Homo sapiens: one gene and its partners. The gene in region 1 interacts genetically with each later gene. Each region holds a gene or a part of one and is shown in the gene's direction. Other genes may lie near its edges.

Region 1 (5,578 bases):
GAGTTGTTTATGCTGCCTTATGAGCTAGATGTATCTTAGGTTTCAAACAATTATGATTGCAGCACTACTCAGGTCTTACAATAAGCCAGACAAGCAATTCTTTATTAAAAATCATTTGCTACTCCCACCACCCACCACCCCAAGATCTTTTTCCTGGCCATTATGTGCCTTATCTCTCTCTACTAGTCATAAAATTTGTTGGCCACCCACTGTGTATTTATCTCATCTCCTACCTCTACCCATCACAGCTTTCTCATCTTCTGATTAAATAGAAGAATTAGCCTCTTATTTGATAAATCATTGTATGGGTGCCTGTGTCTAAGGGTTTCTGAAGTCTAGCAATAGAACATCCTCTGCTCGTTGAGAAAACATGTAGGGTCACCCATCACCAAGCACTCCACATGCCAGAGACTGCACTGAAAGAACACTCAATTCTTTCATGTAGTTAAAAGAACACAATGCTTGCCCTCTGAGAGTTCAACATCTGGAAACAAATCTAAAGAGGGAGAAACTGGCAAGAAGAAACACATTAGAAATAGCATCTGCCTTAAATGATGTACAGTAGGATTTGGGTTGAGGTGCTGCTCTGGAGTTATGGCCTGCTGTTAGTAGTCTTGATAGCTAAAACTAACATGCTTTTTTCTTGTAAGATTTCAGATTGAATATAGTGGTTGAGAGCCTGGATTCTGGGATCTGACTTCCTGGCTCTGCCACTTCCATGTGTCACCCTGACCAAACTGTGTCATCTCTATGCTTCCCTTCATTGTAAGATGAGGATCATAATAGTATTTACCCTAGGAATGAGAGGATTCAATGGCATGTGTGTGTGATGTGCAGCACACCTCCTGACACAGTGTCAGTGCACAATAAATACTCGCTGCTGACCCTTCCTGAAGCCAAAAAGAAGCCTCTGAAGGCTCAGCTGAGAAAGGTGTGCTGCGTGAGTACCAAAAATTACTGCCTTCTTTCCAAACGAGAGCTGCTATGGCTAACCCTGAGATCCTTTGTAGTCATTTAATTACAGAGAAATTCTGGAACATACTTTCTTCAAGCCAAGTTAGTCTTTTTAGTTTTTAAATTACATCTTGATCGTATCACACACAATCAGTTGTCACTTCAGGGCACTTCCAGAAACAAGTTTGCAGGCCAGCATGTGGCAGGTAACACCTTAGAGGAGACTGGGGCATCACTGCCTCTCTGAAATCGTCCATTGATATCATCCCCTCCCTCCTCCTTTGAGCTCAGCACACATTAATCAAATACCACAATTTTTCAGGTTCTGTATTAGGCTCCAGGGATACAAGGGTGAACAGACAATTCCCGTCCTCATGAAATGTGCAATTGTGTGGAACTACATGTGAACAAATTCAATCCACTGTGATGGAAGCCCCAATGGGAGTGTGTAGAAGGTCAGAAGAGGTACACAGAAAGGACAACAAGGAAGGCTTCACAGAAGTGGTGACGTCCCACTAGGATTTTGAAGGGAATAAGAATGGGGAGAATCAGAAGATCAGCACGGTTTGCACAGAGGAACTACAGCAGAGGTGTTGTGGGGGGACATGGTGGTAGATGAAATTGAAGATGTAGGCAGGAGTTTGATCATGTAAGAGCTTGGCCTTTGTCGTGGGAACATCAGGGGCCATTGAGGGACTTCAGGTAACAGAATGCCACAGATCCACAATTTTAGCAGGATCACCCTAGTATGAAAGACAAACTTGAAAAGGGTTTGCAGATGCTGGCAGGTTCATGTCACCACTGCGGATTCATTGAGGGCAGAGACAGAGTCCTATTTATCTATGTACCCCTAAAGTTTAGTGCTTTATAGACATTTAAGAATTTTTTTTTTCAGAGTGAAGACAGCCCAAGTTGAATTTTCCCATTCTGTATCCTATCCTCAGAACATGCTGACCTGGACTTCCATCTGTCACAAGCAGCTTGACTAAGATCCTAGGAAATTCCTTTTTTTCTTGGCATTCTTCTAACTGACACTCTCTGTTTACTGGGCCCTCTGTGCATCTGTAACGTGTGATGACTGATGCTTATAATTCTGACCTTGAAGTACTTCATGGCTTCTAAATCATCAAAAAAAGATTAAAGCATATTCTCAGTATCACTGTAATGTTTGTGTGTTTTACTGCCTTCTTCTCTGGAAAGTGGTGGTTTATGAAGTGCCCGTGCGCTTGTGTGCACACGGACACAGTGAGAGTCTGTGATGGTCCTCAACTCTTCTCCCACAGGGAGGCTATGGTGCGTGCTTGAAAATAAACAAACAAAATAACCTGGGTTCTCTTCATGCCTAGCAGGAGGAAGCAGCTTGGTCCCAGGGGCAAAGAAGCTTGAAATGAGAGCGAAAGCAGTGGTTAGGAAAGCAGAGGGAATGATGAGGCAGAACTGGTGCAGACCAGGAGTCAGGCAGTTTACGAGCCAGCCCTGGCTGACTGCATTCTGACCCCAGGAAGAGCAAAGCCCAGGGTCGGGACTGCAGCTTCATGTTCTGTGTGCCTGGACCCGAATCATCAGGCTTGGATTTGGCGGGATTCTCCACCAGCTATGTTTGTATCTCAGTAACAACCGCTCAGTAAAATGCCAGACATTAGGCAAGTGAAAACATCAATAATTAGAGCCTCCTGTTCCCCACACATCTTTTCTTGAAAACCTTTATTGCTGCAGAGCTGACATTATTAGGCACAGAATGAAGAACTCCAAATAGAAACTGTGAAATGGCTCCATCTTATAACCTGAGTCCTGAAAAATAAGGGTGTGATGTTGTCACTAGGCGGGAGATTTGTTTAGGTTTTCTTTTTTTCTTTTCTTTTTCCTTTTTTTTGAGATGGAGTCTCGCTCTGTCGCCCAGGCTGGAGTGCAGTGGCGAGATCTCGGCTCACTGCAACCTCCACCTCCCGGGTTCAAGTGATTCTCCTGCCTCAGCCTCCCAAGTAACTGGGACTACAGGTGCCTGCCATCACACCTAGCTAATTTTTTGTATTTTTAGTAGAGACGGGGTTTCACTGTGTTAGCCAGGATGGTCTCGATCTCCTGACCTCGTGATATACCCGCCTTGGCTTCCCAAAGTGCTGGGATTACAGGCATGAGCCACCACGCCTGGCCCTTGTTTGGGTTTTCTTTGGGGACCGTATATTGCAGTAAATAGAAATGCCCCTTCCATTTTGTTGTAGAAATTTGTTTTTAAAATCTGTGTTTGGTCTACACTCGTCATCCCAGCCTAAAGAGCCAGTCCCTGAACCACAGAAGTTCTGTTTGCCGCCTCTCAGCCACGGCATGTGTGGGCTTTACAGGCAGCTTTACCACTTGCCAGTTCTGTGAATTTGGGCAAATGTTTTAGACTCTTTGGGTCTTAGTTTTGTTTTTTTAATCTGAAATATTGGAATAATGCAGATTCCTTATTTTACAGCGTTGCTGTGAGGCTGAAATAAAATGGTGGATGTGGAAATGCTCAACTAGAAGGCCCTATCTATATCAATAATAGTATATTAAATATACTAAAGAACATCATAAATATCCTAACAAAAATAGAAATATATTTCATCTGCAAACATGACATCCTCCAAAATTGTCCCAAAGTAGAGTAGGGAAATGAACTATTTATTGAATCTCTACCTTAGGGGAGGTGTTCCAGCTATCACTTTATCTGTTCTGCAAAGTAGATCTTAAATCCCACTTTTAGACACAAGGAAACTGAGACTCCTAGTCACAGCAGAAGTGGGATTTGAACCTGACTCGAGAACTTAATGCTCCTTCTCCTTGGCTACATTATCTCGTTGTCTAGTTCCAGACCCCCAGTGTTCTTAAAAGCTTTGACATTCTTTGGTGCTGGGAAGTGTGCCAGCCATTTCTTGGTCATTCACTCCTGTAAGTGGGACAGGGTGGCACCCAGAGGGAACTGGAGCACCAGGTGCCCCCAGAGAGACCAGCAGCACGGAGTCGTCCAGTGTGTGGGACAGGCCCTCCGTTGGCGTTCCACTTTTAGGGAGTTGGCCTGGCATGGACAGAAAGCCAGGCAACAGCTGTGCCACATTTCCTAGCCCTTGAGAAAATGGCTACGGCCCTGTCGTTTTCAGAAGTTCATTCTTTTTCTGTCAAAGTGAAGCCACCCTTCCTCAGGACTCCTCTCAGCAATCAGTGCCTCTTGTGTATTCTGACCGGCCCCTTATTCTGTTTGTAGAGGGAGTGAGATTAGATTTATTCTATGTAGTAACCACTCCGCTAAGCTTTTCTGCGACTCTTCCTGTTAGCTTTGATGCCGGGCACTGGGGGAAAGGGTTCCCGATGTGGCAGTTCCTTAAGTGCCCGGTGGGACCCACTGCTGCATACATTTTCTTCTTTATATCCTTCCCTGATTCCCAGGCAAACAGACTCGGCTTGTGAACTGGAGCTGCCCACCCAGAGAACCAGAGATAATGCCTGTTGAAGGGCCAAGTTGCATATTCAGCGAGGATGTCAGTGTGTGGGAGAAGCATTTGTTCAGCCTGCGGTTCTGAGAGGAACTGTGTGTTGTGTTCCCATAGGTTCTCAACAGGAGGTGTGTAGAAGCGGCGGTGATGACAGGCCTGGCTCTGAACTGCCACATAAACAAGAAGTCCTTGTTTGACAGGAAGCACTACTTCTATGCAGACCTCCCTGTAAGTACACTTTGTGATCCACCCCACTGCAAGTTCTCAGAGCTGGGCCAGCCCTGCTGTGGGGGGTCGGAGCAAGGGAAAGGGGCTGTGCCTCTCATGTTTTCAGCCAGCACTGTGTCCATCCCAGCAGGAAGTTCGGCCCAGCCCTGATGCAGGCAGGTGCCCCTGATGGTTACTAGATCGGATGCAGTTGTCCTGATTGCTGACTTCTTGCTTACCTCATGCTTCTGGTGGCTCGCTCATAATTGCACAGGGAGTAGAAGCCAGTGTTTGCAGGCTCAGCCTGGCCGTGGTATTTGGTGCTAATTGCCTGTTAGTACAAAAGCTAAGGCTCTGGCTGATGCAACAGTAAATGCATACTGTAGTTCTGTCAGCAGAGCGAGAGCGAATCGCTTTTAAGTTGAAGTTCCCAATAATAGGGCTGTCTCCTTTGGAGACATTTCTGTCATCTCACAAGGAGCAAGTAAGTGGACAATAGTAAGCGGAAACATGAACCAGAAATCTGGACCAAGAACAGTAAACTGTTGGTCCAGTTACTTGGCTGAGCAGTAAACTCCATATTGACCCGCTTTTTTCTGAAAATTAAAAGGTTTTTTTCTTTAAGCCACACCATGTGAGTGAGAGCCAATTTTTCATACTATTGAACAGGAACAAAACTGAAATGTTGAATGGGTTTCCCAAAATAATGTTTTGTTTGGTCTGATTCAGAAAAACAACAGTGATGATGTTGCTTCACCTCTTTCTCCTTGAACTGAAGATTGGGGCGAGCTGTTTTTTAGTGGGTGAGGGCACGAGTAGAATTAAATAAAAAATACAAGTAAGACCTGCGTTCTCCAGTGGCTGCTGCTTTTCCCCTCTGGCCTCCAGCCTCTCAGCAAGTCTACTGTTTGGTAGGGCGGAAAGAATTAAACCGCCTTTCTTTATCTTTTAAGAGTGAC
Region 2 (3,500 bases), on another chromosome or scaffold:
CTCTGATTTTCACATTTTGCAAGTGAAAGTTTCAGTGGGAGAATATATATATACTATATTAGTCCATTCTTTTCTTTTTTTTTTTTTTTTTTTTTTGAGGCCGAGTCTCGCCGCTCTGTCACCCAGGCTGGAGTGCAGTGGTGCCATCTCGGCTCGCTGCAAGCCCCGCCTCCCGGGTTCATGCCATTCAACTGCCTCAGCCTCCCAAGTAGCTGGGACTACAGGCGCCCACCACCACGCCTGGCTAATTTTTTGCATTTTTAGTAGAGACGGGGTTTCACCATGTTAGCCAGGATGGTCTCGATCTCCTGACCTCGTGATCCACACGCCTCAGCCTCCTAAAGTGCTGGGATTACAGGCGTGAGCCACCACGCCCAGCCCCTATGTTAGTCCATTCTATGCACTGCTATAAAGAGATACCTGAGACTGGGTAATTTATTTTAAAAAAAAGGTTTAATTGGCTCACATTTCTGCAACTCTACAGGAAGCATGGCTGGGGAAGCCTCAGGAAACTTATAATCATGGCAGAAGGCAAAGGGGAAGCAGGCATGGTTTATGTGGCTGGAGCAGTAGGAAGAGAGTGGGGAGGTGCTACACACTTTACAACAAGCAGTTCTCATGAGAACTCACTCACTGTCGTGCAAGAGGGAAATCTGCCCCCTTGATCCAATCACCTTTCACCAGGCCCCTCCTCCAACATTGGGGATTACAATTTGGCGAGATTTGGGCAGGGACAGTAATTCGCACCATTTCATATAGCAGCATTTTCTTATATGCCATTTACTCTTGACATGGCTGTATATGTAATTTTGTATTTTAGCCACAGGAAGCTCTTTTTAACATTTACTTTGATTGGCTTTGTTAATTACAAAACAGAAATAAATGAGCACCGTCGTCTTATTCCTGTCTCTAGCACTACAGGATCTAAGTGTAAGAATTCAGCTCATATGCATTAAGGGACATATAGACAATATGAAGTTACAGTTCATAAAATATAATCAGACTGTTAAGCAGTAAGTGAGAACTAATCCCATCTAACCTCATTTTATTAATATAAATGATGAACTGAGGCTCAAAAGGTTTAATGCCTTCCAGAAGGTCATGGAGTAGTTACAGGGAAGGCTGAACTTGAGTACAGGTAGTGTGTTTTCTGCTAAAGTCATGATGTGCAAGTTCTCGATGCTGCTGGCCCTGTGTTCTTTTCTTTCTGGGTCCAGCATCAGCCTCTTTTTCTCCCACCATCTCCAGAGGACCCTGGCTGTTGATGAGCACATCCCAAGCAGGGAGGGAGTCACCCTCTCCATTAATTACCTTACATAGTTCTCATTGTCCCTGATATATGGCTGTGTAGCTTCTCAAGTGTAAGCCTAATTTTTCTCCTTGTACTTAAAATTATTTTAGATTAATAAGAAAAAAAAAACCACTGTCCTTGTAAATTCTTTGACCCCTTGTTTTTCTCATACTCCATCAAAATGCTTTTTAAAAGCTCAAGGGTTAGAGGTTTCCTTTTAAAGAAAAATTAACTAGTTTGGTTTCCTGACCTTTTGTTGCTAAAATCATCTATCTTGTAATGGATGTTGAATTTTTATAGCTTTCCCAATAGTACATCTATCACAGAAACAGTAATGTATATTTGAGGTTGATAGAACATTTCAGTTTTATGCTAGCTTTGAATGAAATCTTTTGTAGAGCTTTCTGGTCTGTGATTTGAATTTTTCCTTAATGAGTTAGGGACAGCTATGTGTGCTGCTTTTTTCTAAATTGAAATATATGATTCGCATGTTTTCATCTCTACAGCCTGGGGATATATGCTACAAAGATTGAATTGAATGGGTCAGGTTAATGGATTGGGACACATATTCCCCTGACGTTTCTGGATGTGTTCTAAGTGAAATATACTTAAATACTTAAATAAGATCTTTTTTGAATTGTGCCAGTTGGATATTAAAATTTGCAATGCATTTTGAATTTTTGAATTTTCTGCCAGTAGTAAGATTAAGCTCCTTTTTTACTTTATGAAGAACTAGAAATATTTTTGACCACTTGATCCATAAGCTTATTCTTTAACTTAAATCTCTACTTCTGTCATTTTTTGTAGCTGTATGAGAGTATATGTGTCTTGGTTTTACATTTTAGTAAGAAAGATTATATTTTGTCTTACATGCTATAGTAACTCATCACTTATCTTGAGTACGGCATCCCAATAATTTCAACTCTCCAAACAGACAAGAGCCAGACAGTTTAAAATAAAAAGGTCATGGGGAAGAGGTATGAGATGAAAGGTTGGCTTTGAGTACAATCTATAACTTTGCCCATAGGAAGTTTCTTCCATATCTCACACAGAACCTATTTTTTAATCTTCCTTAAGGCAAAGCTCTAATAAGGTAAATTATATGGTTTTCATCCACGGCAGGCTACAAGCAGCAAAGGAAAAGAAGTGATTAGACTATGTGTGTGCATTGCAGTGAAGCGGGAAAGAGCAAACCCAGCAGCTGCAAACCAGCTCAGAAAGCACTGTGTCTTTTACTGTTGAGCAGTGGGGCCCCCTGCCTGCCTACCTAGCCCCAGGATTATTCCAGTAATCATTGGTGTTTGTAATGTTGCCCCTGAATCATTCAGAAGAGGGTTAGAATGTCCTTTGAGCTCTTAAGAACACAGAGAGGCAAGATACATTTTAGAAAGATAAGCATCCCTAAATTTTTTTACCCACCACTCAGCTCTGTTCAATTTTAATATATTGCCATATTTTTATATCTTTTTTAAAGAAATAAAATATTGTTGATATGTTTGGAGCCCTCTTCTATCCCCTTTCTTTCCCTTCTATGAGTTGTACTATCTTAAACTTTCGTCATCATTATTTCCATACATATTTTATCCTTACATTGCAGATAAATACACCACACACACATACACACACACACACACACACACACTCAGAGTAAATGATAGGAGTAGTCTTTTCAAGATTTTATACAAATAGCATTATACTGTACAAATTTTCTGTGACTTGATTATTTTTTATTCCATTTTGGGATTCAATCTCGTATTCCATTATCAGAATTATCACAGTTTATTTTTTCGTTCACATGTTGATTTTTATTATTTTTTTCATTTCTTGACATTACACATAATACCATAATGAACATTTTTATACCTATCGCCCGTGTAAGTATGTATGTACGCTGTGCTCTAGGATATGTTCTTAGAGACCTAGAGGGTCATGAGGTTTTACACAGCTTCAGCTCTACTGTATATTGCCAAATTATGCTACAAATGCTTGTACAGATTTCCTCTCTCACTAGCAGTATCTGAAAGTTCCTATAGCTGCAGATATCCTCCAATATCAGGTTCTGTTAGGTTTTTTTTTTAATTGTTCATTTCATGTGTATGAAATTATATGTAATGTTCTAATTTGCATATTCCTACTTTGTACTGTGGTGGAGCATAGTTTATATTATGGTTTATTTGGATTTCTCTTATGTGAGTTGCCTTATATATTC
Region 3 (3,500 bases), on another chromosome or scaffold:
GTCCATTGCATGGTGGGGCAGCACACAGGGATCTGGCAGGGTCATATCTGAGACTCCAGGAGAGGCACCTGGGCTCCTCGCTGGCTACATGTTCTGAGAAGTAACTGCCCCTTCCCTGGCAATCGTAGCCTCCAACTCTGTTCTGCTGCCTTAGCATCATGGTTTGGGGCACACCAGCCCTTTCACTGTTGTGAACTGGGGTAGGGTCTAACCTTGAGGTAGCAGCTACATGAGTTAGTGGACCCTTGGCTTCTGCACCAGGTACACCAGCTCGGCACTCTACCTGAATTAATGGTGGAAGCATAATACTTGGCTGCAGCCAGTTTCCACAGAGTGCTCTCTGTTCCTTTTCTGGGAGGCCAGCTTGCTGGGAATCAGTCTGGAACGTGTTAACCCTTACCTCTTGATACTGGTCAAAATGACAGCTGGGAGATGTGATTGTTACATGAAATGTTTGAATCTGATTGGAGTTTTAAATTCTGATCATCTCTTTGTAGTAGTTATAGTCAAATAATACAAACCCTCTATGTTTAATAAAGAGATTAGGCCCAAGGCAAGCAGCTGAATAAGTACAGCTGCACAAGACCACACCTCTCTAGACTTGCCTTTTCCCCATCTCCTGATTCGGTCAACACATTCATTCTTTCTGTGAGATTGGTGGTTATGAAAAATGAGTAAGGGGAGGAGAGCTATTTGTGTTAAACTGAAAGATGATTTTGGGCAATGGTTAGAAAGAAAAATTGCTATTGAAAAAGATGTAGTGTGTAACAAGTAAAATGAAATGAAAAAAAGGGAAGGTTTGAATGTAATACATAATTTTACAATGAAAGCTTGACTTCTACCTTGTTAGGAAGTGAAAAGCCCTTGTGTCAACATCATCAGACTAATGTAACTTAATAGATTTTGAAAACAAACTCTTAAGGAGCAGTTTAATTCTGAGTGAGGACAGTAAAATTAGCTTTTTTTTCCCTTTTGGTTTAGATAATCATTTATTGACTTCCAAATGTTTTGATGTTGTAGCTTACTGATTTTGTGACATCTCATTCTTCTTAAGCATACAGTTTTTTAAAATATCAAATGGATCAAAATAAATTGTTTTAGCAATTGGGGAGATAGCATAAGGGGCATTGTGTGTGATCCCCTGGCAGCCCCCTATCAGGGTTTGAATCAAGGAATGGCAAAGCAGAGTGAGCACTCAGTGAGTGAGCCAGAGCCTGGGCTGCAATGCTGGCTCTGCCCCAGGAAACCTGTGTGATCCAGGCCACATCATTTAATGTTTTGGATTCTGGGCTCCTTGCATTGTTTATCTCACAGAATTGTTTTGAAAATCAAATGAGAAAATGTGTGACAAAATGCATTTTACAAACTGAAGTGGTACATAAATAAAAGATACACAAAGATCAGAACGTGGTGTGTCTATCAGGACCTGAGACTATGACGGAATGCTCATGGATTTTGAAGCATTTATAATCGATCTCACTCTGGTATCAGATTCACTTGAAATCCACTCACATAAGTTTTTTGAAATGGAATGTCTTGAAATCACCATATTTATCATTTAAAAAATAATTTGCATTTAATGAGCATTTAACCATGTGCCAGGCACTGTCTTTCAATTGATTATCTCATTTAATCCTGAAACAACCCAGCGGGTAGGTATTATTATCCTCATTTTTGGAGTAAGAAAACTGAGGCTCAGAAAAAGGTTTAGGTAATTTGCCAAGACATGGCAGAGCCAGGATTCAAAATCAAATGTGTGTTTGATTCCTGAGCTCATGCTTTTCCACACAGAAACCTTCTTTTGTCTCACCTTTGATTTACAGTTAGCAAACTGATCCCAGAAGGCAAAAGAATTTGCCCAAGGCCTCACAGCTAGTGACAAAGCTAGGACCAGAACTGGGGCTCCGGATTCCTATTGAGGTGCTCCTTTTACTCTGTCACCCTCTAGGCTCAGCCACAGCTTCAGAGCGTGATCTATAAAGAGGCAGAAGTCATCTTTCTTCTAAAGTCAGAAGCTGACAAAAATAATAGGACCCACTTATAAAAGCCATCCTTTCCCTATCATTTAAATCTTAATCTCTTTTAAAGGCTTAAATTCTTATACTTTTATATAATTATGAAAATTTCCCTTTCAATCAGATTCTTGCTCAATTATAACAGAAACTCCCATCATTCCTTCTCTCTTTTCCACCCCCAGATGATAGAACTCATTTCATTGTCACAGAGGAAAATGACTTAATTCATGCAGAAAAGCAAAAGGCAGGGACAGGCAATAAGCTGAATACCTTTTCTGTAATAAACAGAAATCTTCATGAATATTAAAGACTTTAGAAAACAATACTTTTCTATGTATCTTTTATGAACTCAGATTTGGATTTTGGCTTAGCTAGTATATAATTATTCATTTGATTTTGCTATTAATTTAATCTTTATTGAACAAATGTAAAACAAGAGATGCTAGTAAAGAAATTACAGGTGGAAAATGTTTGGGGCAAGATTGGTAAATTAAATACATAACAAACATTAGTATAATAAAAATAATTTTATGTAAAAACTTTCAAATGAAAAACTAGAAACAGCTTAGATCAAGGATTTTACTGTTTTCCTAGCTCCCAAAGAACTCTTAACAGCTATTTTCCCATATTCCTAAAAATTTCTGAAGAATAAGCCATAAGCCTAATTCATTGTAAGGAGTAAGGCATGAATTGAGTGGATAGTTTTCTTCTGATTCTGCACTAAGTAAAAGAATGGGGTCTTGTACCTCCTTGGACGACTTGCTCATAAGCTGAGAAGGTTATCTGCCACTCACTTTCTTAAGGACAGTTATTAAGTTCCTGAGTTCCCACCAACCCCTGAATCTCAGGTCCTCTCTCAGATTTCTGTGGTTTTCCTAAGAGTTATAAATCTGCAGTTTCTAATTAAAGTGTCTGACCAATGTGTTGCTTTCCATCCTGTTTGTATAAATCCATTGTAGTTGTCATTTCAGCAGTTCCAGATGATTTTCTAATTTGTGTATGATCCAGATTTCTTAATTGTTCTCTTTTTCCCATCTCTTCCTTCAGGCAGCTTAACACTCCTTGGTAATTTCTAGAGGATGGGCAGCACAAAGAAAAGTTCTACTCTAGTTTTTGTGGGTTTCTTTTTGCCACGTGCTAATGGTTCCGTTAAAGGTTTGTTTAACTTCTTTGCTGAAAGAAGTTTACGAACTCCTTGGCAAGAATCTGATTTCTGGTTTCTTCTGCTCTACTGATTATATTTGGTTTATGTGTATTATCAGTCATGCGAACATTCAGCAAACAATATTTAAAAACCCCATCCCACATATGTACATAAAAGAAGGGTTATGAATATTCTGTTTCGTGTTTGTTTGCATTACTTCAGGGGAAGCAAATTCTTAAAGAACTGGAGTAAAGTTCTAGCAAGGGAATAAGGCCAGGAAGAAAAAACAGAAGGCAGAAATAAATAAAAGCAGAAGTTCTGACCCTTAGTGACGAAACAGA
Region 4 (3,500 bases), on another chromosome or scaffold:
CACCCAGGCTGGAGTGCAGTAGAGTGAGCATAGCTCACTGCAGCCTGGAAATGCTGAGCTCCAGGGATCCTCATGCCTTAGCTTCCTGAGCAAGTGGGACCATAGGCATGCACCGCCATGCCTGGCTAACTTTAAAAATGTTTTCAGAGACAGGGTATTGCTCTGTGTTGCCCAGGCTGGTCTTAAACTCCTGGCCTCAATTGATCCTCCTGCCTCAGCCTCTGAAAGTGCTGAGGTTATAGGCATGAGCCACTGCACCCAGCTTGATATTATGTTTTAAAAGTACAGGGTCAACAGTTGAGGAAAGAGCACTGAGTATATACTACCTGGCTAGGTCTCAGGTTTGCCAGTTGCTAAATATTTTGGCATTTATACAGTCTCTTTGAGGGCTTGGCTTTCCTATTTTTAAAGTGGTAATCTACCTCACAGAATTTTTCTAAACTTAATAAAGAGCTGTTTATGAAAGACTGTATGCACTGTATAATTGTAAGATATTCAATTATAAGATTTTATAAGAATATATAATTCAATAATTGATGTAATTTGATATAATTATAAGATATTCAACTACATTGAAGATACTACTGCTGTCTTCAAGTGCAGTTGTTAACTATACTTCTCTGTATTTTGCTGTCATTTATTAGCAGGCAGATATAATACGTAATACATAATATAATACATAATATATTATATAATACATAATATAATATAATACGTAATACATATATAATACATAATACATTCAGTATACTTAATGTGTATAATACAGTTCTGAGTATGTGTTAGAAACCAGGATGCTGCTTATTTGATTCTATAATAACTCACCTATGACATGCCACACATACATGTAACTGAGCTGGGTTTTGAGTAGTTAGTTGGAGAGTTTTTTAATTGAGAAGTTTAATTCAGAAGTTTGTTTTTGTTGCCTCTGATTTAACATTTTATATTTCTTTTGAAAAATTTCCAACAGAGCTCAAATGATACTTTTCCCACAGCAATGCACATTGCTGCTGCAATAGAAGTTCATGAAGTACTGTTACCAGGACTACAGAAGTTACATGATGCTCTTGATGCAAAATCCAAAGAGTTTGCACAGATCATCAAGATTGGACGTACTCATACTCAGGATGCTGTTCCACTTACTCTTGGGCAGGTATAGGAGTTTGACTAATTTGATTCAATTTAGAGCTTGGTACAAATGGCCAATGTGTCATCCTTGAAATCTGACTAGCTTAAAAGGCCAAATTTGTAACCGGAAACTTCAGTGACAGAGGTTGTTCTGTTCAACCAATCAGTAATTTTCATTGACATCCACTTAGAAGAAAAGCAGAGTATACTGGCTATAAGTCAGATTCAGTCAGACTGCTCGGGTTCAAATCTTAGCTTTGCTGTGTACAAGCTATGGGACCATAGGAAAGTCATTTAGCCTTTCTGTGCCTCAGTTTTCTGAGCTACAAAATGAGGAAAATAATTTCCCTTTCATAGGATAGTTGTGAAGCTCTAGTAAGTTGATTTATGTAGAGTGCTTAGAAGCATGCCTGGCACACAGTAAGTACCCATTCATGTTAGCTACCATCATCACCACCGTCATCGCTGTCATCTCCATCAGTATCATCATGGTTTTTCTTTTGTCTTTCTTACCTAAATTAGTAGGTTATTTAAAATTTAATCTCAAAGTGATTAAATAAGGTAGATCTTTTTAAGATGGATCTGGCCGCATGTGAAGGAGATACTACTCTCTTCTCCAAGATATTAGAAAGTATTTTCATGTTTCTTTTTCAATGCCTTAAGGAATATCTAATAGTATACATTGTGAAGGAAATGTAAGGAAATACAGGGAATGACTTTTGTCTTAGTAAACTCACACTCCAATTGGGGTAGCTTAATTTCCTTATGGAAGGAATGAGGAAAACTTGAAATGAGTAATTGAAAAACAAATGATGGGACTAAATTGAACTCACTGGATTGAGTTGCTTCTTAAGGCTGTGTCTCATTTCTCTTTGCATCATTAGTACTTAGGACCATGCATAATTTCTAAGGAGGAACAGTATGTATGTTTTGAAACTTTTGAATATTTCTCAAGTTTCTAATTTTAACCTTTTTTTGGTGTTGAAAACTACAATACTAAATACCATTTGGGCCATGACTCAGCCTCCTGTGTAAAATCATCATTCTTCCTGTTAAGACAGAAAATTACATTTTTCTGTTTGACTTTATCAGAAGCATTTATACTTGCTTTTATTGGGATTGTCTTTTGAGTTCGTGCATTGTTCCCTGTCAAAGTGTATTTTATAAGTGAATCTATCTAGTGTGTTTGTGTGTGTGTGTATACATACAGTCATGTGTTGCTTAGCAATGGGGGTATGTTCTGAAAAATGCATCCTTAGGCAATTTCATAGTTATGTGAACATCACAGAGTATACTCACACAAACCTAGATGGTATAGCCTTCTATACACCTAGGCTATATGGCATAGCCTTTTCCTCCTAGGCTACAAATCTGTGCAGCATGTTACTGCATTGGATACAATAGGCAATCGTAACACAATGGTAAGTATTTGTGTATCTAAACATATCTAAATGTAGAAAAGGTACAGTAAAAATACGGTTTTATAATCTTAGGGTCCCACTGTTTATGTGATCTTTCGTTGGCTGAAACATCATTATGTGGTGCGTGACTGTATATGAGTGATGTTATATCAGATGCATCAGGTCTACCTATAATGAGTTATATCTTTTGAAATGTTTTCTTTAGAACAGTATGGCATCCTGTCACTTATGGTTTTTTAGTGTTTTCAGGCAGGAAAAAAGGATAGATTTAGTGTAACCATGTATCTTGGTTTGTCCAGTTAACTCCCAGTGTATGCCTTTTGTTTCTGCATGACTATTAATAGAGCCCTTTCTGTGTTCAAAACATAAATTCTGTGGTTGCTTTAATTAAGGCATGTCAAAATTTGGAACCAGTGTTGACATTGGCACATTGATGCTATGATCTGACTCTACCGTTACCTCCTATTCTTTTTGGAAGGTCCTTCAATGCAAACTGTTACCTTCCTGTGCTATTCAGTGAGTCATTAGCTTCCCAAGTCTCTGTAGAATGTCTTCATATTTCCTGGTAGGTTTATACACTGAAATTGTATGGAGAATATTTCTATGTTTGCATTTTTTTGGGGGAGATGAGTTACTATTTTTTCTTACACCAAAGTTGTCTGAGGCATCCCAAAAAATAAGAAATCACTTCAGTTTCTTTAGTAGACTGCAAGTAAACCAATAATTTAGTGTAGTAAAGTTGTTCTTTTTAAAGTGTATTTCCTGTGCTGTTTTTCTTTGCTTCCTATTAAAAGACTAGATTATAATAAATAGGCTGCATGTTATCAGTGGCATTGTCGTACCTTATGGTTCTATAAACCCTCATCCTTCCCTATACTTTGCTCATCATAAGATTTGAAGTAGTATAAATAAAACTTGATTAGCTTGTAATTTAGTATTCTGAAAGGTATT

What was found. A genetic interaction does not mean that the proteins touch.
Region 2: changes in GATB (region 1) and TFB1M together harm fitness less than expected from each alone (positive genetic interaction), as found in Homo sapiens cells (one large-scale study listed by BioGRID).
Region 3: changes in GATB (region 1) and LARS2 together harm fitness less than expected from each alone (positive genetic interaction), as found in Homo sapiens cells (one large-scale study listed by BioGRID).
Region 4: changes in GATB (region 1) and FH together harm fitness less than expected from each alone (positive genetic interaction), as found in Homo sapiens cells (one large-scale study listed by BioGRID).

Annotation. Positions count from the first base shown.
Region 1 is NC_000004.12:151,718,487-151,724,064, reverse strand, and holds part of GATB (glutamyl-tRNA(Gln) amidotransferase subunit B, mitochondrial isoform 1 precursor), read left to right. Parts: intron 1-4,526; coding exon 4,527-4,640; intron 4,641-5,578. UniProt on the Homo sapiens protein: Allows the formation of correctly charged Gln-tRNA(Gln) through the transamidation of misacylated Glu-tRNA(Gln) in the mitochondria. The reaction takes place in the presence of glutamine and ATP through an activated gamma-phospho-Glu-tRNA(Gln).
Region 2 is NC_000006.12:155,286,985-155,290,484, reverse strand, and holds part of TFB1M (dimethyladenosine transferase 1, mitochondrial), read left to right. Parts: intron 1-3,500. UniProt on the Homo sapiens protein: Mitochondrial methyltransferase which uses S-adenosyl methionine to dimethylate two highly conserved adjacent adenosine residues (A1583 and A1584) within the loop of helix 45 at the 3-prime end of 12S rRNA, thereby regulating the assembly or stability of the small subunit of the mitochondrial ribosome.
Region 3 is NC_000003.12:45,395,076-45,398,575, forward strand, and holds part of LARS2 (leucine--tRNA ligase, mitochondrial), read left to right. Parts: intron 1-3,500.
Region 4 is NC_000001.11:241,506,256-241,509,755, reverse strand, and holds part of FH (fumarate hydratase, mitochondrial), read left to right. Parts: intron 1-970; coding exon 971-1,153; intron 1,154-3,500. UniProt on the Homo sapiens protein: Catalyzes the reversible stereospecific interconversion of fumarate to L-malate. Experiments in other species have demonstrated that specific isoforms of this protein act in defined pathways and favor one direction over the other.